Homo sapiens: one gene and its partners. The protein of the gene in region 1 purifies or fractionates together with the protein of each later gene. This does not show direct contact. Each region holds a gene or a part of one and is shown in the gene's direction. Other genes may lie near its edges. The genes, in order: VSIG4, SLC30A9, KIDINS220, HEATR6, ARFGEF2, DENND6A and MTFP1.

Region 1 (4,296 bases):
CACCTGGCCAGGCAGAAATTTACATCTGTCCAGTGGGCTTTTTAGCGGGGAAGGGGAGGGGTGTGTGTGTGTGTATGTGTGTGCGTGTGTGTGTGTGTGTGTGTGTGTGTGTCTGTGCGGTGGTGGTGGTGTAGTGGTGATAGGGTGTTGGTTGAAAAATATCAAAGGAGGGTTCTGTGAAGTTCAGGGTTTCCTGAGTGAGGACCCGGTGGGAAAAAATGGCTGAAATTTCCAGTGAGATGGAATGAGTGCAGTACTCAAAAAACAAGGAACAACCAGCCAAGGGGGATTGGGCCCTAGAGGCAGAGGTGATTGATAGAATTCCATGTAATAATGTGTCCTGAAATGCTGGAATGTCTCCTTAGCCCGTGCACAGCTCCAAATCATCTGCATGCAGCCACCCCTTGGCAAGTATGTTTCTTTATATTCCCACTCCCCATCTCTGCACAAACTCCTCCCTCCCCTGACCAAGTCCTTTCCTATCCCTCCAATCAAAGAGTAAACTAAGCTTAGCTGTTACTTACAGTGCAGTATGAATTTTTGGGATGTATTTGTGCTTTTGAAAGTGCTTATTGTTTCAAAGCTTAGTAGACAAAGCGCAGTGCCAAACCTAGTTAGACTGCTGATGAAATTACAGTCACTCTGGGGCCTGTGAAGAGGAGCAATTTCTGGAGCAGTTGAGCTTTGCTAGGAGGCATAATATTACTCTCTTGTAGGTCAAGGGCCTGTACCAATTGGAAGTCAATGAAAAATTCAACCTAATACAGCATACCACTAATGGGCTGCTGCACTGGAGGCTAGGCTTAAATTTCCCTTAAAAGAAGTAAAAAATAAATTCCTTATGAAAAAGCATGGAGAACATTAATGAAAATGAATTCTCCCTTACCATCAGAGAGGTGGAGCCATTGTAGAAAGTGATTCAAAGAGCTTCCCCAATATGAGATATGAGGCATATTCACCCATAACAGCCTTATCCATTGGCTTGTCAATTATTCAAGCTTTGATGTGTAGAAAGCCCTTTAATACACTAAACTCTTGTACTCTTAAGCCCAAAAGCACCCCGGGCCCAACACCCTGTCCAGTTGCATAGGCTGCACAGGCAAGGGTTAACAGTACAACTAATGAAAATTGGGTAGGTCAGCAAAGTTGATCTCTTCTCCCTGGGCTCACCACAAAGGAAAACACCGCCATACTGGAGTGGGAAGACTCATCCCAAAGGTCGCCCCCACAACCTCTGAATCTTGTGGAGGAGACTCAAAATAAATACAGCCTAGGAGATCAAAGACCAGAAAGCCCCATTGGCTCCAAGGAAAGTCAAGTCAATACCCTAGCAGGGGGAAGAATTGCTTCACTCATCCTGGAACCTCCAACCCCAAGGAGGTGGGGGAAGGGGGGCACCCCACATGACCTGTACTGAAATAGGGAAGGAAGGGGAATGTGTGATGGGACTAGGAGTTTGAGTGAGAGATATAGGGAAGGAAGGGAAGTAAGCAGTCACAGACGCTGGCGGCCACCAGAAGTTTGAGCCTCTTTGGTAGCAGGAGGCTGGAAGAAAGGACAGAAGTAGCTCTGGCTGTGATGGGGATCTTACTGGGCCTGCTACTCCTGGGGCACCTAACAGTGGACACTTATGGTAAGGCAGAAAGGGGGGCCTGGCTGCCATTGCTGGCTTAGGCAAAAGGCTAGAGGGTTGGTGTTTAATGTCTACTATGGAAAGCCTATTCCTACTGGGCAGGTGAGTCTTCTCAGCCAAACTCTGCAGGCTCTCTCAGCCTTGAGCAAAACGGATGGATGTAGTTGAAGGCTGCTGAAGAAGCCAGAAGGCAAGTTTGGGCAGAAATTGAAAAAGGATTTTTCTCTTGGAAAACATCTGCATTATTTTCTAGGGCTTGTATCTCAGGGGCATCAAGAAGGTTCCCAATGACATCCGAATCTTTCCTCCATCTGCTGTCTCTCATCTAAAATTCTACAATTGGACTTAACCACTCTGCTTCCAAGCTTTGGTCTCTGTTAAAATATACAGCCCCCGAAGAAGGAGTGTTTTCTAAGAGTTGGATAGGACTATAGAAGTAACCTATACCACCCTTCATTGTCATGAATAAGTGCTCAGAAACATCCAGTAGTGATTGAGATTTCACTGTTCACTACCTCCCCAGACCATCTAGTCCATCCAGGAGCAGCTCCAACTGTTAGAAAGTTCTTATTTGTGTTGAACTAAATCCAGTTCCCTCTGACTTCCATCCAAAAACCCCAGCTTTGCTTCTTGGGGCTACACAGAACATAGATGCTTCCTTGCCCTGTGATAGCCCTTCAAAGCCCTGAGGACAAGTACTATGTCTCCTTGACTCTTCTCTCCTCCAAGCTGAACAGCCCCAGCTTTTTCAACTGGTCTTCATAGGACTTGGTTTCTTACCCATTCCTGGGATAACTCACTTCCCTATAGACATGGCTCAATTTGTCTGGGCTATTTATGGGCTGGATACAAATCCCAAAGGAGGATGGACTATTCCATAGTGGCATTATTTCCTTGGAGCTTGGGAAGCTCTATCCTCATCTACACTCCTGAGAAGTGAGATGGATTTTCAGGAAACTCAACCTGGGTAACAGCTAAGTGAGATCCAATATAGGGTAAAGGGGGATTTTGCTGCTTCCCTATCATCCCTAGAGAAAAAGGCTGGATAGGTGTTAGCTTGGTGTCACTTGTTAGGTCAGAAAGAATCCAGCTTTCCGTAGCTGACTCTGATTAGGTTACCCTATCCTGGGGCTCTGTGACCCATCACACTCTGGAACCTCAGAGTTAGAAAAGACTCTGAATTAAGTCAACCAAGAGAAAAAATAATTTGCCCCCAAGCCAAAGAGCATTAGTGGCAGAGTTAATGCTCCTGAAAAAACATTTTTCTTTCTATAACTACCACATTTCCATTCTCTAGCAGGTTTTATAATGTATCTCTCTACCTTCTCCAAGTCTGTTGGTTTGAGCTAGGGCTTAAGCCTGGGGCTTGAGGGAGCATTTTAGAAATGTTAAATTTAAATCCTTTGTTTGTGTGTGTGTATGTGTGTGTGCATTCATGTGTGTGTGTGTGTGTGTGTGTGTGAGAGAGAGAGAGAGCACTCATGTGTCTTGTTCCTTCCCCAGCCTATGAGCTTTTCCAGACCTGGAAGCAGGCCTTCCATTTGTACACAGGATCTTATACTATAGACCTCAGGCTCAGGTTATGCTGAGCTGCAAATAATACCTTCCCTCTCCCTGGACCTCATTGTTCCTAGCCCATCTGTACAGTGAGGAGGTTGACTTGACTGGTCTTAAAGGGGTTTCTCAGCTGGACAACTCTGTGGGACTGCAGCTTCACTGCTAAAAACCCTGTAGCGGCCAGAGTAAGCTGCTAGCCTCTTCCTGTGGGGCTAAGAGATATGTCAAGATAATCAAAATTTAAAAAATTTCTAATATTCACATTTTATATACATTTTAAACATTTCAGAAACATTTTATAAACATCTATTATATAAGTTAATCCTCCATCCAGGAGGCATTCCAGGAAAGGGAGAGAAGCCAGTCATGTGGGGGAATGGGATAGAGATATGGAAAATGTCAACCTCTTTGTGATGATGGGAGGAAGGGGATTCAGAAAGAGACCTAGAATGGGTCTTATAAAGGAGCACACACCTAGTAAATTCAACCTTTCTTTTCTTCAGTGCCATTACACAGGCATCAGACATTTGCTTTTATAAGGCTGGGTCTCAGGACCACATTAAGCTCAATACTGTATATATACTTATCAGCAATAAGTATATATACTTATCAGCAATAAGTATATATACGTATCAGTAATAAGTTTATATACTTAGTAATAAGTATATATACTTATCAGTAATAAGTATAATATAATATAATGTTATATATTATATATAAGTAATTATCAGTAATAATTATATAATTATTATATATTATATATAAGTAATTATCAGTAAAGTGGAAGTAATAATAAAGGAAGTAATATAATATAATAAGTATATAAATATATAATATAATATAATATATTATGAATATATTATATTATATTATTATTATATAATATATATTATATATTGTATTATATAATTATTATATATATTATATTATTATATAATTATATTATATATTATATTATTATATGATATATATTATATATTAATATTATTACATAATATATATTATATATTATATTATATTATTATATAATATATATTATATATTATATTATATTATTATATAATATATATTATATATTATATTATTATATAATATATATTATATAT
Region 2 (3,500 bases), on another chromosome or scaffold:
TCCCGCATCCTGGGCTTCCTTCAGGTAGGAAGCCTGCACTGGGGGAATGGGAGGATAGCAGGATGATCACCCGTATGATCCCCTCTGGGGCTTCTGCCCCTCTCTCCTATTCCCTGGAAAGTGTTGAGGGTTTGGATAAGGGATAAAAACATACCACTTTACTGACTACAGTGTTATTTTGCATTGGTTTCCTCTGGCCTTTGTAGATGTTTAAAACTGTCTTTTTTTTTCTCATGGGCACTTCTTGGAGATTACCCTGCTTGGCTGCTCTGGCTATGGCTGCCCAAATTGATCACATAGCCTACCCTCTCAGCTTCTGCATCTCATGGTGTGGTTTCCAGACAGTGCTGAAGTTGTCTTGCATTTGGAAAGAATGCCCTTTGAGCAGCTGATCTCCTTATAAAAGACTCCTAGGGACCTGTGTGTTAAAACAGACATCTTTAACACACTTTCTGTGGGAGTGCAGGTTTTTCTCTCAAGCCCAATGATCTACTCTGCTGATACAGCCAATATCAGTTAGTAGGCTTGCGTATGGATGTATCACTCAGGTATGCATCAGACAGTTTGCTGTGATATCCAATATCCCGGGGGACACACATCAAGGCTACTGAACAATCTTAGTAGCTCAACAGCTTTCACCAAAGAAATCTTCATTTTTGGCCTCCTCAATTTCAGCTCTTCTTATGTGGTCTAGAGGATGTGGAGCTAGCATGTAGTCTAGTGGGTAGAGGCCCCAGGTTTGGGCTACCTTCTGTGCAAGGCCTGAATAGATGGTATAACACCTCCTTTTGGAATGTGGGGATACTTGTACCTATTTTCTTCTCTATTTTGAGTTGTAGTCAGAACTAGACAGAATCAATCTGTCTACTTTTTTAATATCCTGTTATATCATGCAAATCTACTTAATAACAAGCACATTAAACTAGGCTTATTTGTTATTCTCTAGTTTTCTATAGTTTTGATTGACTAGTTTCTTACCATAATACATTTCATATAATTAAAACAAACAAATGTGTTTCCTCCATTCTGAAAAGATTTGGCCACTTTATGGGTACTTCATTGTTCTAGCGTTCTTCTAATTTGTATAGTGTCACTTTATAGGGGCAAAGCACTCTCTGTAGTTAGAGATTAGGTAATTAGTTAAATTTTCAGTTGTGTATAAGTTTTAAAACTTCTAAAAGCTCTTGTGTCTTTCAGTAACTAAATGGGTTTCCATTAGACTATGGCCCTTTTTAAAATAGTGTTGGACTAGGTTCAAAGTTTTCAGACCTCTATTTTAGGAAAGCCTAGGGTTCTAAACATTGTTGAAAATTCTGTAGATGTTTGGTTTGAATTTCATTAAAATAAAAAAAATGTGTTGCTAGGTTAACTTTTTTTTTTTGATACACCCCTGTCTAAAGCTTTTTTTACCATCTTTAATTGAAGAGTGTCCTGGGATTGCAGGGAATGTGGTATTACCAAAAAACAAACATTGGTTACTGTTTGTAACTACTTATCTTTCTGAATCAGGATTTTCTTGGTATTAGGCATGGAAGCAAAATCCAGAAGTTACTTGAGTTTGGGTGTGGATCTTACTGTATCTGGTGTCTACCACTCCTGATATCAAATATTGTATTCATATCTCATTGTCCTCCTCATTTGAGTTGTTTCCCATTAGTAACCTTACTGTCTGGCTTAAATTTGAATTCGTGTTTTTGTTTTAGACATTACGGACTTTATATATGAACAATTGTGATTGGAAGTACTTAATTTATGCTTTATTTTAATATTTCTTTTCTAGGCATATTGTATTTTAGCAGGATCATTAGTATCTGAAGGAGGTATGTACTGTCACAAAGTATGTCTCTATTCTTAATTTAGTAATATATATTCAGCTGTCCATTATTATAGTTTGCTAAGTTCTGTTGATTAAAGAAAAGCAAGTGTGGGAATAGGCATCTAAGCTTTCTCTACTTTTAGGGAGTAAAGTCTTTGCATAATGTACTGTGGTTGTTCTGTAATGGATAGCTGTGGGGGGGTGTGTAACTGCGCCCTGCCATGGGATGGCATCCTGGCAAGGCCTCATTTCTCTTTGTGTCCTGAGCTGCTAGGATAGGCTCAAGTAGGTGACTATCAGATAGATGGAAGACAGTAACTGATGTGGCATGAAAGCGCTTAGCAAGCCCACCATATTTGTGGTTATTTTTAAACTATGTGGTGGTAAGAGGTGTTCCTTACAGTTTTCACTTTGCAAGCATTATTCCTTGATTGAACCCACCACCACTACTATCGCTGTTACTTGCCGATTCACTAAAAATTGGATAAATAATTATTTTACTTATTTAAAAGGGAAAGTATGTTTCATTTTTGAGTATCATACCATAATACTCAAAACATTTGAAATGGAGTATAAAAAACATAATTAAACTGAACTTTTAAAATTAGAGTTTAATAATATTCACCAGAAGAATATTATTTACTGGCTCTTGTGAGACAAATATTTCAAAGTTTTTGAAATACACAGCTATAGCAGTATGATGACAGAGAACTGCTAATATCAGTATAAAACTGCCTGATTCACTGCTGTGCTCATGTTTACTTCTGAAACATTGTAACTTTCTATGTATAATGTTCCCTTCATCTATTTTTAAAATTAACATTTTTTATTGACAGATCCTAATTGTATATGTTTATGGGGCCCCTCATCTTTGAAAGTCTATGAAATGGTTATAACACAACCTGCTTCAAAAGATTGGGAGGCTCAGAAATGAATGTGGTTAGTGTGGTGCTGCCAAATAGCAGCTCTTCAATAAACTAAAGCTGTTGTTATTAGTAATTATATTTAATTATTATGGTTTAGAACTATGGGGTTCATTTTATTATAATGATTAATTGATAACAACTAATTAACATAGAACTTGTCCTTATTGCCAACCCTAGTTTTAAAATGTTGTGCTTATTTGTTTATCTTTTGAGATGCCATCTTTAAAGTTTGGAGGCATGAAGTTTCTGTCTTGCTGATATGAATGCTTTTCTTTTAGCAACACTTCTTGTTGCTGTAAATGAACTTCGTAGGAATGCTCGGGCTAAAGGAATGTCATTTTACAAGTATGGTATGTATTTTAGAAACCAAGTGTTTGTTTCACCTCCCTTATTTGCTTAAAATTACTTAGTACTGTTATTGCTTTGTTCCTAATAGAAATGTACAAAATATATCTGAATATCATCCCTGTGTGGCTCTTACATATCCTTCAGCCCTTATTAAAAAGAAATGTAGTATAGAAATTTGAACATGGATACTTTATATTTGGATTTGACTTAAGTGAACTAAGGTATTTCTTTATATGGTTATATAACTTGAGAAAGTAATTTGACTTTATGTATCAGTTATTGTTGACATTTAAGCCAAGAAATTATGTTTGCATTGAGCAAGGTTTTTAAAATCATAATCTCTCATACACTTTTTTATCTTAACTTATATCTTGATTTTAAATGGATACTTATTAAAATGTTACCTGATA
Region 3 (3,500 bases), on another chromosome or scaffold:
TAGTCTTTATTCTCATTGAGCTACATTTGTTTGGCTAGGGGAAGCAGACCAAAAACAAAGTATGTGGTATGTGGAGTGATGCTAGGTGTTATAAAGAAGACCTTTAAAGTAGGGCTGTGGAAGGGGGATATAGTAGAGGGGGAGAGGGCTGTTTTATACACGTATAAATGGTATACACCATTTATACACGGTGGTCAGAGAAGCTCTGATCAGGTGACGTATGTACAGAAAGTCACTGTGGCCTGAGTAGAGTCAAGGAGAAGGAGCAGCAAGAGTTGAGCTTAGGGAGGTGGAGAAGGGGTGGAATAGATCAAGCAAGGCCTTGGCCCTGGTAGGGATCTGGGATTTTGAGTGAGAGGACAACCGTTGGGATGTTTTGAGCACAGAATGGTTGTAAGAAGACACGATTCAGGAGGACCACTTAGGCCTCTGTGTGGAGGGGGCAAGCGCTGCCACCCAGGCCCAGGAATGTCAGCACCAGGGTAGGCTCTGGGGACTGCACAGGGGTGATTGTTGCTGGAGACTTAAGTGGGAGGAGGAGAAGAGGGGCTGGAGATAGAGAACCATGGGAGGGGCCACATTCAGGAACTTACTGTGTCGTATCTGGAGGATAAGAAATAAGTAAGCCTTGGGCAGCATGGCACTATTGTTGCTTTCATGCACTGTGTCTGTAACCGGAGAAAAGTTATAGGGTGCGTCTATTAACCGATTGGCCTTTTGGTGAAAGCATTTTGAATACATTTAGAGATTTTGCCTATTAAATTGGCAAGTTCTAAAAATGGACTTACTACAACATAAATTTTTTGTTCTGACATTGCTGTTGGCTACATCTGCCATTTTCAAAACGGGTGGCAAGACATTAATTTTTTTGCTAATTGTGCAAAAGAATGTATAGCCTTATATTCCCATTAGAGAGAAAGTGCTGTGGACATTAGATTCAACTGATGTCCATTTATTCAAGAAATATAGTGTCTTGTATGGGCCAGCTATTAAGCTAAGTGTTGGGTATTTGGTATAGAACGAAAGAAAATAATTCATTCCTTTTAAAAGCTTATATCCTAGTGGGAGAGACAGCTATTAATCAGGTAAATATGTCCCATTCCAGCAGGTGTAGCTAAAAAAAAAAAAAAAAAAGACAAATTTAAAAAACATAAATATGTAAATTACAAGTTTAGTAAAGTGTTATGAAGGAATAAAAAAGATTCCATAATAGAGAACAATCCAGGTTATGAGAATCAACCAAGAAAGGGTGGTTAAGAAATGATCATATTCTGTTATTATGTAAAACAGCTAATATTTATTGGCTTCATATGGGTTAGGTATTATTTTAATCCCATTGCATGTAATTGTGCAGTTATTTGAAGATGGGGAAACTCAGACACTGAGGTGAAGAAACTACCCCAGGGGACAGGGAGTGATAAAGAGAGGCTGGTTAATAAGTACAGACATACAGTTAGGTAGAAGGAGTAAGCTGTAGTGTTCAGCAGCATGGTACTATGCTTAACAGTTTATTGTGTATTTTATTTTTTATGGTATATTTTAAAGTAGCTAGAAGATAAGATTTGAGATGTTCCCAGCACCAAGAAATGAGAAAAGTTTGAGGTGATGGATATCCTAAATACTCTGATTTGATCATCACACATCCTATGCATGTAATCCAAATATTACACATACCCCATAAACATGTACAATTATTATGTATTAGTTAAAAAAATTAAGGAAAAAAAAAAGAAACTAGCCTGGGATGATATAATGGTCAGTAGTAAAGTCAGGAGTCAAACCAAGGTAGTCTGGCTCTAGGGTCCATACTTTTGACCACTAGACAGCTTCGTTTTAAGCCGAAAGGGCTTTTGGAAGTGAACGTTGAACTGAAATGTGAAAGATGAGAAGCTGTAGTTTTCCTCCTGTGATGAAACATTTTTTTTTCTATTGAAAATGAACGTAGACTTAATACATCAAGTAAAACAATATAGCACAAAGACGCGTGAAGGCAAAGCTAATCATCTCCTCCTTTTAGTCCTACATGGTAAGATAACGAATTTTACAGCCAGGTGTGTGTCCTTCCACACTTTTCTTTTTGTTCATGTGTACACACTGGATAGATACATATATGGGGGTCTTATTTATTTTATCAAGTAGAATTATACTACACACGTGCTCTTAAACATGACAGCGTGTCATTGGTTTTACTATTGTGTGTATCAACAGATGTGGATTTAATGTTCTAATTTTATTTTGTAATTTCTAGGCACTTATATATGTGCTTACAAACATCTTATGACATTTAATAATCAATTATTCAGTGAAATTTATTAAACACTGTCAGTGCCCTCTAGTCAAAGACTGCCAGGAACATACCTCTAGTTGAACAAAGTTGGTCTTATTAACTCCCTGCAATGAAGGAGAATGCCTGTCCTAGGGAACGTTGGGGGTCTCTGTAACAGGTTGTTAGAAAGGACTTAGAAGATTCGAGATGATGTTAGGTGATTCGGGGAAGAGTTCAAGGAAGCAAAGCTTTGCTCAGTCTCGGGTGCTTCAGGAATAAGGAGGAGTGGGAATTCTGCAATTGGATATTTAAAATCTTAACGAAAAGGCAAGAGGTATGGAGTAAGGCTAAAGCTGTAATTGATAAAGAAGCAGCAATGCTTCATATTAGCCACGATAGGAAGATGTTTGGGCATTTTGTGGTTTGGGTGATGTTCATGTTTTTGTCTATGTTCAGATATGATTCCAGAGTAGTCTTATTTTTGTCTTCATATCCTGGTGACAGAGTGACCTTGTTTGATGTTGGCATTCTTTGAAATTGTTGCATTTATGTTAGAACACCAAGTCTGGCTGTGTGTGCCGGGTCAGTTCCCGACAGTCAGGGGCTGCTTTTCTCTCTCACCTCCTGTTGTGTAGGCATTGTGCTAGATATAAAGCAGATCCTGCTGCAAGAACTTCTAGTCTAAGGGAGATGTGGAGAGAGTGAGTAAAATGGAGAGGAGAGTTGAGTGTGATGTGAGCAGTCTACAACTAGATGTATACACAGGTGTGGAGGAGCCCAGGGCCTGGCCCAGCTTGGGGTAAGCAGCCAGTCAATGAAGGCTTCCAGAAGATCTGTTAGAGCCATGTTCTTAAGGATGGGTAGGAGCTGTTCAGGCATATATACGTGGAGAATGGACTTTCTAAGCAGAGGGGGCATTAAGTGCAAAGGTCTGGAAAGAACAAAGTGTGGGGCAGTGAAGGAGCTGCAAGTAGATCAGTCTGGCTGGAGCTGGAGGTGTAGATGTGACTATGTAGAGGGTGGGAGGGATGGGGCTGAGGAGGGGAGAAAGATAAGGCTGGAATGGTAAGATGGGGCCAGATTGTGAAGAATCTGCATGCCCTCATCATAATCAAGAATTGAACTTACTGAGTTTTCACTCTGCTCAGTGGAGAGCAAAGCTTTCCGTAGGAATTGTGTATTTGCATCTTTACAATGGCTTTAAAAGCCTTAGAAGGCGTAAGTTCCTTGAATA
Region 4 (3,500 bases), on another chromosome or scaffold:
AAAAAATCCAGATAGTACAAAGCAGCATTCAGTGTGAAGCCTTTCTTCTACCCTGACACCTTAGTTCCCCTCCCCAGAGGTAGCTGGTTATTCATGTGCACGTGTCCTGCTTTTTGTCACTTCAGCGTATAAGCAACATGTAAAATGTGTAAGCATTCTATTATTGACTTGTTAGAAATCCTTATTTATGATTACATAATTATCACTGTGTGATGATTAACCATTTTTCTATTACTGAACATTTGTTTTAGTCTTTAGGCTTGTAGGCTTTTATATTCAGGGAATATTTTTGTGCATGAAATCTGCATTTTGAGATTTTTTTTTTTTTGAGACATTCCTATGTGGGGAACTATTGGGTCAAAAGATATATAATGTAAGTTTCTTGATATAATCTAAGCAGATTTGTTAAACTGTTTTCCTAAACTTTTAGGCTTATACTAATTGAATATATTTCTATATGTATATATTTAAGTGTATTTACCTTTTAACATGTGTTGTCTGCTTTGGGTGGAACAGGGAAACACCAGACCCAAGTTTCCAGGAAGAGTTCTCTGGTCTCCTGCTCTTGAAAATGTTACGATCAGCTATAGAAGCATCCAAGGATAAAGACAAGGTAGACTCACAACAAAACCCAGTATCTCCCAAACAGATAGTTAATGTATTGTAGCTGCAGTGTGGTAGTTCAGTGTGGCTTGATGTTCCTCAGACTGTCCCACCAAATGTACTCCTGTTCAAAAGAGACTGAGGGTGTGCTCAGGGTATAAATGGCCCATTCCACACGTGTATGGTTTCTTTACTGTCTCCTGCCTCCTGAAAAATATCAGTGCCCATTGTAATACTACATGACATATTCAGATTCCTTTTAAAATTAACTTTTTTTTATTTTCCAAAAAAAAAAAATTGACAAGTCAGAAAGATGAGTAGCTCTTGGCTTTGAATATTACCTGTTAAACTAATAAGTTTAAAAAGCACATGTCTGGGCTTTAGGTCAGACATACATGGATTCAAGCCCTGGCTCGCCCTTTAGTAACTGGGTAAGTTTGGTATATTACATAACTTCTCTGAAGGTCAGCTCCTCACATGTAACATGGAAGTTATATACCTCACTGGATATGAAGATGCCTTATGTTAAAGCACCTAGCACAGTACCTGACCCATACCATGTGCTCACTTTAATACTACTTCTGAAAATCTGGTAATCACCCAGGAAGCCCTACCTCAGAGTAATTCAATCAGAAATTCTGAGGTTAGGGCCTCCGAATCGGTTTTAAAACAAAAGGAGAAACCTCCCCAAATGATTCTGATGGGCTGCAGAGGTTGAGACTCTAGTCTAGTAGAAAAGTATTGGACTGGAATTATGGAACCTAGCTTCTCCTCATTGTCTTGCTATCAATCAGCCTTGTCCTGTTGTTCCCGGTCCTTATACTCCATCTCAGTAAAACAAGGAAGATGGACCTCTCTGAGGTCCTGTCTAGCACTAAATAAAATAAATAAATAAATAATCAGAGAGAGGAGTTCTGTAGAACCTCACATTTCTGATGGCTCAGGATGTTAACCAGAGCAGACCTTGTGAGTTCCAAGGACTTGCTTTAAGAAGTTGAAGACCTCCTGGGTTTTTTTAAAGCTGAAATTAGACTTTTGGAAACATCTCTTTGGCCAAACAGATTTCTAAAGCATTTACATTTTTTCTAGGTAAAAAGCAATGCAGTCCGGGCCCTTGGAAATTTGCTTCATTTTCTGCAACCCTCTCATATAGAAAAACCCACATTTGCAGAAATCATTGAGGAGTCTATCCAGGCCCTAATTTCTACTGTTCTAACAGAAGCTGCCATGAAAGTCCGATGGAATGCTTGTTATGCAATGGGAAATGTATTTAAAAATCCTGCCCTTCCTTTAGGTAAGAAAGTTTCCCTTCACTCCCTGGTGGAAAGCCTCTTGGGACACACACCAATCTACGTTGTTGTTAAAGATGTTTGTCACATGTTATTTGTCATAGTATTAGGAAAAAATGGAGACATACTGAAGACAAGTTTAGGGGGACATTGAAATACATCATTACCTATACAATGGGATATATAATGGGATATTTTGTTGCCATTTAAAATTACTTACAAGAATTTGATAATCTGGAAAAATACTTCTGATGTTAAACAAATGAAAGCAGGTATTAAATAATTTCTACAGAATGATCTCAATAGATGGGTAGAAAAAAGACTGAAAGGAAATTGGACTAATTATTAACAGTGATTGCCTCTGGATGGGTAGGATTTTTTCTGTTTTCATTTTCTCAGTTGTCTACAATAAGCATATATTACTTTAATGGTCAAGAAAACAGGAAGGAAAAAAACTGGAATGAGAGGGAATATAAACTGGAAATCCCCTATGAGCTGTGTACAGAAGTGGATGCCATTAATAAATGTAAGGAGGGCATCTGTCTCTAAGTAGTGGCATGCCATGCACCTTGATATGTCATTCAGGACCAGTAGCTGCTTAGGTGTATGGATCGGAGCCTCCAAACCTCGCTCACTTTGAATGCCAGCGTTCGCTTTATTGCATCTCTCTCTCTCAGATCTGAGACCTAAGGATGTGTTCCTGGAGAGGAGAGCACACATCAAGTGAGGGGAGTCTGGCTCTGCTCCCCTTTATTGCCCAGAGCGTCCAGGCAGACCAGTCAGCTGGGAGTATGTAAGGTAGCTTCCCGGCTTCTTCCATTGAGGAAGTCACCTAAGGGTGACCTTTTGGGTTGGAGCCCATTGAGGTGGTTATCCGCCTTCTGGAGAGCCAAGAAGTCCTTGAAACCAGGGCACCTCAGTGGTGGTTGGCTCCTACCAGCCTTCCTGTATGGCCCTTGCCCTCAGCCTACTAGAGAGAGAAGTTTACCTGCATGACTTGGAGGGAAAGGGAAGCTCCAAAGAGGCAGGAAGTTTGAGAACTAGAAAGCATCCAGTAGCAGAGCTATCAAGAGCCACATAAGAAAAGGGAGCTAGAAACTGATAAAGGACTCTGACGGGTCGGATTGTGAGTGTCTCATAGCTCTAGCAGTGGCCCATTGTCAATGGCACTGGCATCCACCAAATGGAAAGGGCCTGCTTGCCGGTCTTCAGAGGCAACAGAGAAGCCAGGAAGGGCTGGGAGAGTTAAGAGAAGCTGCATTCTACTCTGTCACCCATCTTGAGTAAGGACACCCCAAAGTGGAGTGGGTAGCAGTAGCTCTGGTAAGGAGGAAAGCAGGCTGATTTCCTAGGGCCTACAGGTGTGGAGAAAAGATAGAAATCTGGGCATCTTATTCTTGAAATTGTAAGTTTTCTTTTTCTTTGCAATAAAATGCATGACTGGCTATGGCCAGAGCAGTGTCTGGATGCTGTTGCAGGTGAGCATGCAGTGTGTGGCTTGCACACAGCTCAGAAGTGCCCAGCTGAGAGGATAGGTGGGGTTGCAGTTCAGTCCACGCTCTGCCCACAAAGCCATACCCCAACGGGACAGAATCCTCCCAGAGAAGA
Region 5 (3,952 bases), on another chromosome or scaffold:
CCCCTTCCATTTCCTATTCTCCCAGCATGTTCTTTCCACTCTTCCTCACCTCCTTCCCCTTCACCTCCTTCCTACACCATTCCTTTTTCCATCTCTTTCCTGTTTTCCTAACTTGTTACTCTCATCTTTTTCTTTCTTTTCTGTTCTTCCTGACAGCTCCCCTTCCTACCTCCTCTCCCTTCACCCTTTCTCCTACTCTTTCCCCTCCTCTCATTTCTACCTCTCTTTCCTTTTCACTTCCCCTCTCCCTCCTGTCTTTCTCCTTTTTCTTTTACCTCTGTGCCTCCCTCTCACCTCTTCCCACACCACCTCATCTCCTCCATAACTAACTCACCTCCTTTTTGTTTGTTTGTTTTTTGAGACAGGGTCTCCTTCTGTGGCCCAGGCTGGAGTGCAGTGGTGCCATCACAGCTCACTGCGGCCTCAACCTCCGAGGCTCAAGCGATCCTCCCACCTCAGCCTCCCCAGTAGCTGGGACCACAAGCAGCGCCACCAGGCCCGGCTGTTTTACTTTTTATTTTGTAGAGAAAGGGTCTCCCTATGTTGCCCAGGCTGGTCTCGAACTCCTGGGCTCAAGCGATGCTCCCGCCTTGGCCTCCGGAAGCGCTGGGATTAGAGGCGTGAGCCGCCGCGCCGGGCCTCCCCCCTTCCCCTCCGCCGCCGCCTTCTCATCGCCCTTCCTCCTTCCTCCTGACGCCCCTTACTCCCGATCACTTCTCATTCATTCACCAGCTTCCAGTCCTCGCTCCCTCACCTCTTTTCTTTCCTACTCGCCTTCTCCTCCTGCCCCTTTATCATCTCTCCTTGTCACCGTTCTTTTTTGCCAATCCTCTCGTTCCCCTTCCTTTCCTCATCTCCTCTCTTACCCACGTCATCTCCATTCTCGTGCTCCCCTTCACCTCCCGTTACCTTGCGCTTCTCTCCTCTCATCTCCATCACCACCTCTCCCCGCTTTCGCCTTTCTTTAGCCCCCGCGTCCCCTATACCCTTCGCCCATGCCCACTCCCCTCCCCACCTTCTCTTCTTCCACCCTCCACCCTCGCCTTCTGTCTCTCGCCCACCTGACTCCGCTCCGCCCCCAGCCTTAGGCTCCGCCCCGCTGGGGGTCACGGGGCCGACGGACGCTAGGCGGCCGTAGCGGCCTCGCCAGTCACGTGGTCACGTGACGCGCTCCAACATGGCGGCGCCGTGGGGCCGAGGTGTCGCTTCCTGACGGGGCGGCGCGGACGGACGCGGCCGGTGCCGGCCGGGACGCCGGGCCCGCAGCCTAGCTCGCCATCTCGCTCACGCCGCCCGCCCGCGGGGCCGTCAGCCCCCGCCGGGCCGGGGCCATGCAGGAGAGCCAGACCAAGAGCATGTTCGTGTCCCGGGCCCTGGAGAAGATCCTAGCCGACAAGGAGGTGAAGCGGCCCCAGCACTCCCAGCTGCGCAGGGCCTGCCAGGTGGCGCTCGGTGGGTGAGCCGCTCCCGCCCTGCCCCGCGCTGGCCTCAGCACGTCGGCCGTTGCCCTATCCTACTCGGCCTTGGCCCGGCCTCCTGGCCTCCGCTTCCCCCCGATCCCGAATTCCACCCTTCCGGCCTCCTCCTCATTATACCCCCGGAGGAAGTGTTGCCCGGGCAGCTCGGGACTGGCCCAAGGTCACCTAGCAAGTTGGTGACAACCAGAGCTTGTTCCTCAGGGTTCCAGCTCAGGGCTTTTGCCACGATTCCTTGTCGCCCTGTTTCCTGGTTCCTCCCCTCACCACCTCCAAGTCCTAGAAACAGTAGCCCTTGCCCCAAGTTTTTTCGTTACCTGAGCTCTGCTGATTGGGGTTCCCCTAGGTGAACAGAGCATGTAGGAAGAGCCGTCCAACTGGTTTAGGGAAACCCCTGATTCTTGTTTTGGAAGTGCCCGTTGGAGAATGTTTTCCTTTGGTTTGGGGATCTCCCATAGCTCTTTCCCTCAAGGAAGGATTGTAGAAGGTGTTCTGGATCTCCCAGGCATTGTAGTGAGCAAGACATCTGCTTATTCCTAGCAGTCCACTAAAATACAAGGTCTTCAGCGCGAAGATACTTGTCTGACTTATTCATTGCTGTATCCCTTGCGCTTGCAACAGTGCCTGGCGCACAGTAGGTGCTCGATAAATATTTGCTGATTGAATGGACCCTCAGATTATGGAAAGAGGGAGAATTCTAACTAATAGTTAAAGGCTTGATAATTGATAGCAAAATCACTATCCTATCTTTCAGTTTTAATCATTTAACAAATATTTATCAAGTGCCCACTGCATACCAGGTACTGAGAATTCAGTGGGGAACAAGACGGACATGGTCCTTACCCCTATGGAGCTTATACTCGAATAGAGGAGACAAAATAATTAATTAAGAAAATAGGTGAGGTATTTTGGAATACTGATAAATACTATTTTGAAAATAAAACAGCAAGATGTGATAAAGAGGGCTTGAGGACTGCTTTCCATGGTCAGGAAAGTAATCTTTTCCAAGAGGAAAAGTAATCAGGTGGTCAGGAAAGTAATCTTTTCCAAGAGGGTGACACTTGAGCTGAATACTGAAAGGCAAGAACTATCCACCATATGGAGTTTCAGAAGAGAGTTCTTGGTGGGAGAATCCATGCATTTGACCAGAGCTGTTTTCAAGCTAATTCACTGCCCCAACGTCTTTGGTTTGGAATCTGTAAAGGCCTGTTTTTCCTAACAAAATGAGCAAATGGAAAGTTTGATTTTTAGTCACATAGTTTGAGATTGTTATCACCTTTCTCCTTTCATTTGCTACAAAGTATAGAGTAGTGTTCTTTTGGCATTTAGAAATAGGCTGGTGAACTTTGCACTTCCCTGGAAAGAAGGTCCCTGGCTTTCATCAGATTTTCAGAGGGCCCTGAGACTCCCTCAGGGGCCAACTATTGATGCAGAGGTGGTAGTCTAGATAATCTGGAAACAGTTGCTAGTCCGTGAAATTCAGGATCAGTGGAAGGAATTTACTGAGATGTAGATTTTTAAAGCTTTTCTCTTCCAATAACCAAGGCTGTTGGGTATTTTATCAGCAATGTGGGATAAGCACTGCAAAGCAGTTTGTTAGGCAAGAGCCTGGTATTTATAACTCCACGTTGAAATCTGCCTGGACTCTATCTTCTCGATATTGTTGTGGAGGTTTCAGAATAGTTATTTGGCAGAAGAGTTTTTATTTTTTCTTCAGAAAACTTCTTAACATAAAATTTTCACCAAAGTGTGCATCATATTATTGGAACCTACTTATAAAATTTTCATCTGGGTCATGAAGGGCCATTAACGCTGAGAATTTAATAGATATTTTCGGATCGTATCTTTGTTCAGAAGTTCAAGTTTTCCTAACACAAGTAGTGGAATGCATGTTTTCAGTTTTTAGTAGTGAATTGTAAAAAATGGCCTAGATAGGAAGTAATTTGACTACAGGTTATATGAATCACAAATTGGGGTTGTGCCAATGGCATAATAGGAACTGTCATAAGGGAACGTATGCATATTGTTAAGTGACCATCTTTTTTAAGAGAATAATTGTGTGTCATTGCTGTTAAATAGAAATGACTGCTTTTACTTAGAGTAGAACACATAGCAGAATGCCTGGTGATATTTCTCTCTGTCTCTCAAGGCCCAGTCTTGTGTCCAGTAGTCCCATTTAAGAAGAGAAATTTGGGGCCAGGTGCGGTGGCTCACGCCTGTAATCCCAGCACTTTAGGAGGCTGAGGCAGGCAGATCACGAGGTCAGGAGATCGAAACCATCCTGGCTAACACGGTGAAACCCCGCCTCTACTAAAAATAACAAAAAAAATTAGCTGGGCGCTGTGGCGGGCACCTGTAGTCCCACCTACTCGGGAGGCTGAGGCAGGAGAATGGCGTGAACCCAGGAGGTGGAGCTTGCAGTGAGCTGAGATTGCGCCACTGCACTCCAGCCTGGGCGACAAAACAAGACTCTGTCT
Region 6 (3,500 bases), on another chromosome or scaffold:
CACAGAGACACAAAGTGAACACATTGTTGGAAAAATGATGCTGATAGACTTGCTTAATGTAGGCTTGCCACAAACCTGTAATTTGTAGAAACTGGTAACTGCAAAGCACAATAAAATGATGCACAATAAAACAAGGTATGCCTATATTAATAAAAGGAGAAGGAAGAATGGTATTGGAAGGCAACAAGCATTTACTGCCTTACCTGAGAGCAGTTATAATCTTATGTAATCAAAGATTTATTTTGAAAGATTTCTAAGCTTGGGTTTTATGATATAAACTTTAGTAACTTTGAGCTGTTTGAGAGCCAAGGGTATATGTGCCTGAAAATTCTACACCATTATGTAACTTTGAAATAAAGGATTATGTTCTGTTTTACCTGGGATATGGAAATATCTGTTAATGCTTATTGAAAATGAGGCTAAACATTTATATCTTGGTAAATTTAGGCTATTTTTGTATTATTGGGATTCTATTTATTTTGTTCTTCTTATCATAAGAATCATCTGGGGCATTTGTTACATATGAGGATTCTGGGGCTCACCCATCTGCTTAATCAGAATCAGTTCCAGAGGATCATTATGTGTAGGCATGTTTGGAGTATGTTTTTTAATTTTCTCTTTATATAAACTTTTCTGTTTTTCTTGTAAACCAGCTGTTGTCAAAATGTGGTCTGAGGACTTCTGGGCATCTCTGAGACCGTTTCAGGGGATTTATAGGATGTTTTCAAACTATGTATGGCTTTTCTTCATGTTCTTCAACCAGAACAACATATTGCAATAGAATGAACATAGAATGATTCTGCCAAGAGCAAACATTAAAGAAAAACAAATTTTTTTTTAAAAAAAAAGAATGAATGCTGAAGCAGATATGAGAATCTAGTTATTTCTGTTAAATCAGACATTAAAGATATTTGCAAACATGTAAACAATGCCATCTTAGTAAGGTTTTTGTTTTGTTTAGGAATACAGGTTGTGTGTTCCTAATCTAAACATTCAAAATCTGAGACGCTCCAAAACCTGAAACTTTCTGAGTACTGACATGATGCTTTTTAAAGGAAATGCTCATTGGAGCATTTTGGATTTCAGGTTTTTGGATTTGGGATGTCCAACTGAGTAAGTATAATTCAAATATTCTAGAATCTGAAAAGATCTGAGATCCAAAACACTTCTGATCCCACCAAGCATTTTGGATAAGGAATACTCAACCTGAATATAGTTACTTTTCATAAAAATTGAATATGTTAATGAGTAATAGGTTATTATTTTAAAATAAATAAACAATTTTTTTTAATGATACTTTTAGTTTCTACAGTGGTGAATGTTGATAGATATAACTCATATAAACAAGAATTCTAGGCTGGACGTGGTGGCTCACGCCTGTAATCCCAGCACTTTGGGAGGCAGAGGCAGGCAGATCTGCTGAGGTCAGGAGTTCGAGACTAGCTTGGCCAACGTGGTGAAACCCATCTCTACTAAAAATACAAAAAAAAAAAAAAATTAGCCAGGCATGGTGGCGCATACCTGTAATCCCAGCTACTCTGGAGGCTGAGGCAGGAGGATCACTTGAACCAGGGAGGCGGAGGTTGCAGTGAGCCGAGACTGTGCCATTGCACTCCAGGTGTGTGCCACCATGCCTGATTAAATTGTTTTATTTTTGTGTTGCCCAGTGTGATCTTGAACTCCTGGACTCAAGGGAACCTCCTGCCTCCACCTCCCAAAGTGTTGAGATCCCAGGCATGAGCCATTGTACCCAGCCTCATTTATTCCTTTCCGTCACTAATTATTAAGTAATATTTGGACTTTATTTATTTATTTGAGACAGGGTCATGCTGTGTCACCAGGCTACAGTGCACTGCAGCCTGGACCTCCCAGGCTCAAGCAATTCTCTCACCTCAGCCTGTCAAGTAGCTGGACTACAGGTGTGTACCAACATGCCTGGCTACTTTTTTGTTTTTTTGTAGAAACAGGGTTTTGCTGTGTTGCCCAGACTGGTCTTGAACTCCTGGCCTCAAGTGATCTGCCTGCCTCAGCCTCCCACAGTCCACCTGCCTTAGCCTTCCAAAGTGCTGGGATTATAGGCATGAGCCACCATGCCTGGCTTTAGACTCTTTTCTTGAAACAGAGTCTCGCTTTGTCACCCAGGCTAGAGTGCAGTGGCACGATCTCAGCTCACCGCAACCTCTGATTCCCAAGTTCCAGCGATTCTCCTGCCTCAGCCTCCTAAGTAGCTGGGATTACAGGCACGTGCCACCGCACCCAGCTAATTTTTGTATTTTTAGTAGAGACGACGGGGTTTCACCATGTTGGTCAGGCCGGTCTCAAACTCCTGACCTCGTGATCTGCCCACCTTGGCCTCCCAAGGTGCTGGGATTACAGGCATGGGCCACCGTGCCTGGCCCATAAACTCTTTTTTTTTTTTTTTTTTTGAGACGGAGTCTCACTCTGTCACCCAGGCTGGAGTGCAGTGGCACAATCTTGGCTCGCTGCAACCTCCACCTTCTGGGTTCAAGCAATTCTCTGCCTCAGCCTCCTGAGTAGCTGGGATTACAGGTGCCCACCACCACACCGGGCTAATTTTTGTATTTTTAGTAGAGATGGGGTTTCACCATCTTGGCTAGACTGGTCTTGAACTCCTGACCTTGTGATCCACCCGCTGCGGCCTCCCAAAGTGCTGAAATTACAGGCATGAGCTAAACACTTTTTAAATAAGGGAACTGGAACTTAAAGAGGTAACTTGCCCCATATCACTTGCTTAATAAGCCAGGATTTGAACCCTGGTCCTTTTGATTCTGAAGCCTAATTTCCCCCCACTATACTGTGTTGTTTACTATTTAGGGAAACTGAAGCAAAGAAGATGTGAAATGCTAGCGGTAGCTTGAACTAAAATTCTTAAATTCTTGGTAGTAATAGTTTACCTCATTTCTCAAAGTGTTCCTGTTTACATGCTAATACTCAGTGTAATAATAGTACCCAGGGCTATTTTCTGAGTTGTATGAACTGCTTTTAGCATTTTTGTGATCCTTTAGTTGGCAAAATGCTTTACCGTCCTGTGGAATGCACAGTAGATACTTGCTTCTGTTTGGACAAAAGACCAGCGTGACCTATGTCAATGACATAAAGTTGGATTTCCTGAAGGTAGGGTTTCTAACTGATAATAGTTTATAGCCATGGGCAGATGAAGTGAGATGATAATAGTTCTCATTTCTAGTGTATTGTGAGGATTAATTGATACAATACAGTGCCTGGCACAAGGAAAACACTTGATAAAGTTAGCAATTGTAATTATTTATTGAGTTTTTCTGAAATAATGAAATAATTACTCTTTTGGTCTAGTTTATTTGAATTCTATCTGTATTACTCATTTAGTGAATTCCTACCTAACCTTAAGCGTCCTTTGTAAGTAATACAGGATCAGTATGAGGGTAGCATCATTAAATTTTTGTTGGTACCTATTATAATAGGAGCACTGGGACCATTTGCATAGGCCATAATAAGTACCT
Region 7 (4,072 bases), on another chromosome or scaffold:
GAAAATAAGAGCTAATTCTTAATAAGGCCTACCGGGTATCACGCAAAAACCCTGTGCTTACTATTACACTTTGGGTTGTTGCAAAGATTAAAGGAAATAAGCCGTGCAAAGCGCTTAAGAGCTTGGTATAAGTAAGTGCTCGTCAATGTTGGCTACTCTCATTTTTTTTGCAGACGTGGGAACTGGGGCTCAGGGAGGCTAACAGCCAGTAGGCGGCACAGCTAGGATTTGAACCCAGGATTGTCTCCAACGCCGCTCAATTATACCCGCCAAGGAGTCACAGAGACTTAGTGAAGTGCACACATTGCTCACCTGGGTGAACTGAGGTCCAGCGGGGGAAGGCTTCCTCCTGTTGTAATCACTAACCCCAACTCTGTCTCCCTTGCCCGATTCATTCATTCGTTAATTAATTCATCCAACATCCTGTCCCCAAGAAGCTCAGTCTGGGGACATACTGATCCAGTTAAATGCGAGTGCTTCCTAGTTATACATGGCGACTGCTGAGAAGGGACTCCAGAGTCCAGGCACCTACCTCCCAGGGGCTCACCGTTCACTCCTCTAGCCTCATTTAGAGCTCGCATTAAGAGCACGGGATCTGGATCCACACTGTTTGGATTCAAATCACAACTTCACCACTTAGCAGCTGTGTGTTCTGGGAAAATGACCCACCTTCTCTGTGCCTCCATTTTCTCACCTGTAAAACGGGCTCCCAGGCTGGTGGGAGGGTTTCAGGTGTAAGACATGGAGAGTCCTTTAGCGAACATGTAGACTGGCAATAAACTCAATAAATGGTGACTGTTATAATTAATCCTCGGAACCATCCTAGGGAGTGGACACTATTGTGTTCCCCATTTTATTTATTACATTAATTTTTTTTTTTTTTTTTTAGTAGAGACGAGGTCTCGCTATGTTGTCCAGGCTGTTCTCGAACCCTTGGGCTCAAGAGATCTTCCCGCCTCCGGCCTCCCAAAGTGCTGGGATCACAGGCGTGAGCCAACGGGCCCAGCCTGTGTCCCTCCCTCGTTTTTACAAATGAATAAAGAGATGCTGGATAAGCCCGAGGTCACAAGCTTTGCAGTGTAGCATCCCCCAACTTGATCCCCTGTCTCTTTGGCTCCAAAACCTACACTCAGTCCTGGGAGCGATTAGCGCCAACAGCTCAGAGAAAACGTGACGAAAACCAGTCTGTAAAACCCGAGCCTGGGAGAGGGGCTTCGGTGCGCGGGGGGAATTTGCAGACGCTCCCTGCTGGCGGAGATTTCCTGACCTGTCCTTCGGCGCGGGACTTTCGGCGGGTCCCGGCCGGGCAGACCCAAGTGCCGGCGGCGGAGACTGCAGTGGAGCCAGTACCGGCTGTAGTGGCCGGGGCCGTGGCGGGAGAGTCATGTCAGAGCCGCAGCCGCGGGGCGCAGAGCGCGATCTCTACCGGGACACGTGGGTGCGATACCTGGGTGAGCGCGGGGCGACGGGCGCGGCGACCCCACCACCACTGGGCTGGAGAAGCAGGGGTCGCCGGACGCCCGCCCGGGGCCTGGAGGAGGCGGGATGATCTTAGTTCTCATTCTGCTTTTGGGCCGGAGACTGGGCTCAGACAGGGCTAGGGACTTGCCCAAGGTCACACTACCCTGGTGGGTCGCCCAGGGCGGAAGCTCCCATGGGGTGAGCGGGCTGCCCGCTCTGGCATGCGCTCTGGCTGGCTGTGGAGTCGGGATCTCCACTCCCATTTCGGTCCTGACACGCACTGGCTCTGTCTGAACCTCAGTTTCCTCCTCGGCAAAAAAACAAAAACAAAACAAAAAACAAACGAGATACACACGAGGGCCTCTCTCATTGGGTGGTGGTTGCGAGGGTGGAATGGGATAAAGCGCAGAAAGCCCTGGCACTTGGCGAGCGTCTGGTCAGTGGCGCTGCCCTCGATCACTCTGCCCCTCTGGGTGCCTGTCACCTCATTAGTGCAGTTACTCCTGGGACCAAGACCAGGAAATCTAACCAATAAGCAATGGTAACAGTGACTCAGTGCTCAGTCCGCCCTCAGTGGCCCGAGTCCGAGGTGGGCATCATGGCACCAGTTTACATCTCGGAAAGGGAGGCTCAGAGAGGTCAAGTCACTTGCCTAAGGTCACCCAGGGACTGCTTAGCTGGCTAGGATGAGAACCAGCCTGCTCCAACGCCCCCTCGTGGAACAGTTGCGAGCCTAGGAATTAAATGTTCCCTCCCCCAGGCTATGCCAATGAGGTGGGCGAGGCTTTCCGCTCTCTTGTGCCAGCGGCGGTGGTGTGGCTGAGCTATGGCGTGGCCAGCTCCTACGTGCTGGCGGATGCCATTGACAAAGGCAAGAAGGCTGGAGAGGTGAGTGTTAGCCTATTTTCCAACCCCCAACCCTAGCTCTCTTCTTGTGTGGTTCAGTCCACAGCCTTGCATGTGATAAAGTCCCTGTGGGACACTCCAGTCCCTACAACCTTGCCTAGTGCAGTCCATAGACAGTCCTGTTTGTAGGACAGTGTACCCCTGCCCCCACACTCCCACTCCCCGAACTGGATGTGGCAGACTGTACCCCACTCCTGGGTGCGGACAAGTCCACTGGCCACTTGCCCCTCCCGGTCTAGCCTCGTGCCCCTTGTCGCAGGATTTTCTGCCTCTGCCCCAGCTGGATTAAGTGTCTCTGCGCCCACCAGGTGCCCAGCCCTGAAGCAGGCCGCAGCGCCAGGGTGACTGTGGCTGTGGTGGACACCTTTGTATGGCAGGCTCTAGCCTCTGTGGCCATTCCGGGCTTCACCATCAACCGCGTGTGTGCTGCCTCTCTCTATGTCCTGGGCACTGCCACCCGCTGGCCCCTGGCTGTCCGCAAGTGGACCACCACCGCGCTTGGGCTGTTGACCATCCCCATCATTATCCACCCCATTGACAGGTGGGTACCTTCTTGGCCTCAGGGATCATCCACTCTCCAGTGATGAGAGTGGATCATCCAGTCTCCAGGTAGAGCTAGACTCTGTGAAGTGTGGGGTATGCCCACTTTGCTGGAGCAATAGCAGGGACAAGGCTGGCACTTGGCTCCTGGGTTAGAAAGGACAGCCTGTACCCTTGTCATATGGTATGGCAGGCACTTTAGCAATAAAAGAAGAGGGGTGCGTTGAGGGTATGGGACACAGGACAAGTAAATTCCCAGAAAGAAAGTCTAGTGTTACAAAACAACCAGAGAGAAGCAGGAGCAGGTGCACCCTAGAGGGGATGCATTTTGGGAGGTATTGGTGACAGAAGCCTAACTCAAACTGAATATTTGAATAAAATGGAGTAAAAGTCCAGGGCTGTGTTGCATTCAGGCATGGCTAGATCTAGGTACCCAAATTATGTCATTAGGGGTCTGGGTCTCCCCATCCTGCTGCCTTTCTCCCCACCCCACCCTATTTCTTGCTGGCTTCACCTGCTTTCTCCTTGTGGGAGTAGAAATGGCCCTAGCAGCTCCCAAGTTCTATCCCACCAGCTTAGCCTCCCCCAGCAGAAGCTTTTAAACAGTAACAACAAAAATCCCAAGGAAGGGTGTCATTGGTCCATTCTGGACTGCATGCCCACCCTATGAGCCAGTTTCCCTTTGCTGATTGGCCAGGCTTGGGTCACGTGCTTGGTCTTAGAACTAGATATGGGCTCAACCCAACCAGACCAATGTAAGAGTGAGAGGAGCAGTCTTTCTCCAGGAGAAGATAGCTGACCCTGAGGCCCTGAGCAAGTCTTTTACCCAGTACCTCAGTTTCCTCCTGAATAAAGAAGAGGATGGCTTCTATTCTGGGAGTTTGATTCTAGCTTCCCCAGGTAGCCCAAGGTGGAAGGATCAGGATAAGGGTGGGTCTCTGGCTGGATGGCATTTGTATCCTGCATCTAAGCGCCCCTTTCCCTAACCCTGGCCTTCTGCCTTCTGTTCCCTCATGAACACCCTTGGTCACCTGCTCACCACCCTTCCACTCCCTACAGGTCGGTGGATTTCCTCCTGGACTCCAGCCTGCGCAAGCTCTACCCAACAGTGGGGAAGCCCAGCTCCTCCTGATCATACTCTGGTACCTGGCCTGTGCATCGGCCT

What was found.
Region 2: the proteins of VSIG4 (region 1) and SLC30A9 purify together in Homo sapiens (affinity purification with mass spectrometry; 3 studies listed by BioGRID and IntAct, with this or other methods). This does not show direct contact.
Region 3: the proteins of VSIG4 (region 1) and KIDINS220 purify together in Homo sapiens (affinity purification with mass spectrometry; 3 studies listed by BioGRID and IntAct, with this or other methods). This does not show direct contact.
Region 4: the proteins of VSIG4 (region 1) and HEATR6 purify together in Homo sapiens (co-immunoprecipitation; 2 studies listed by BioGRID and IntAct, with this or other methods). This does not show direct contact.
Region 5: the proteins of VSIG4 (region 1) and ARFGEF2 purify together in Homo sapiens (co-immunoprecipitation; 2 studies listed by BioGRID and IntAct, with this or other methods). This does not show direct contact.
Region 6: the proteins of VSIG4 (region 1) and DENND6A purify together in Homo sapiens (affinity purification with mass spectrometry; 3 studies listed by BioGRID and IntAct, with this or other methods). This does not show direct contact.
Region 7: the proteins of VSIG4 (region 1) and MTFP1 purify together in Homo sapiens (affinity purification with mass spectrometry; 3 studies listed by BioGRID and IntAct, with this or other methods). This does not show direct contact.

Annotation. Positions count from the first base shown.
Region 1 is NC_000023.11:66,037,281-66,041,576, reverse strand, and holds the start of VSIG4 (V-set and immunoglobulin domain-containing protein 4 isoform 1 precursor), read left to right. Parts: upstream 1-1,496; 5' UTR 1,497-1,578; coding exon 1,579-1,633; intron 1,634-4,296. UniProt on the Homo sapiens protein: Phagocytic receptor, strong negative regulator of T-cell proliferation and IL2 production. Potent inhibitor of the alternative complement pathway convertases.
Region 2 is NC_000004.12:42,063,530-42,067,029, forward strand, and holds part of SLC30A9 (proton-coupled zinc antiporter SLC30A9, mitochondrial), read left to right. Parts: intron 1-1,780; coding exon 1,781-1,820; intron 1,821-2,955; coding exon of another isoform or gene 2,956-3,005; exon of another isoform or gene 3,006-3,020; coding exon 3,021-3,092; intron 3,093-3,500. UniProt on the Homo sapiens protein: Mitochondrial proton-coupled zinc ion antiporter mediating the export of zinc from the mitochondria and involved in zinc homeostasis, zinc mobilization as well as mitochondrial morphology and health.
Region 3 is NC_000002.12:8,831,114-8,834,613, reverse strand, and holds part of KIDINS220 (kinase D-interacting substrate of 220 kDa), read left to right. Parts: intron 1-3,500. UniProt on the Homo sapiens protein: Promotes a prolonged MAP-kinase signaling by neurotrophins through activation of a Rap1-dependent mechanism. Provides a docking site for the CRKL-C3G complex, resulting in Rap1-dependent sustained ERK activation.
Region 4 is NC_000017.11:60,044,422-60,047,921, reverse strand, and holds part of HEATR6 (HEAT repeat-containing protein 6), read left to right. Parts: intron 1-516; coding exon 517-613; intron 614-1,692; coding exon 1,693-1,897; intron 1,898-3,500. UniProt on the Homo sapiens protein: Amplification-dependent oncogene.
Region 5 is NC_000020.11:48,920,559-48,924,510, forward strand, and holds the start of ARFGEF2 (brefeldin A-inhibited guanine nucleotide-exchange protein 2), read left to right. Parts: upstream 1-1,152; 5' UTR 1,153-1,331; coding exon 1,332-1,452; intron 1,453-3,952. UniProt on the Homo sapiens protein: Promotes guanine-nucleotide exchange on ARF1 and ARF3 and to a lower extent on ARF5 and ARF6. Promotes the activation of ARF1/ARF5/ARF6 through replacement of GDP with GTP. Involved in the regulation of Golgi vesicular transport.
Region 6 is NC_000003.12:57,683,078-57,686,577, reverse strand, and holds part of DENND6A (protein DENND6A), read left to right. Parts: intron 1-3,500.
Region 7 is NC_000022.11:30,424,496-30,428,567, forward strand, and holds the start of MTFP1 (mitochondrial fission process protein 1), read left to right. Parts: upstream 1-1,272; 5' UTR 1,273-1,384; coding exon 1,385-1,451; intron 1,452-2,221; coding exon 2,222-2,349; intron 2,350-2,675; coding exon 2,676-2,908; intron 2,909-3,966; coding exon 3,967-4,039; coding exon of another isoform or gene 4,040-4,072. UniProt on the Homo sapiens protein: Involved in the mitochondrial division probably by regulating membrane fission. Loss-of-function induces the release of cytochrome c, which activates the caspase cascade and leads to apoptosis.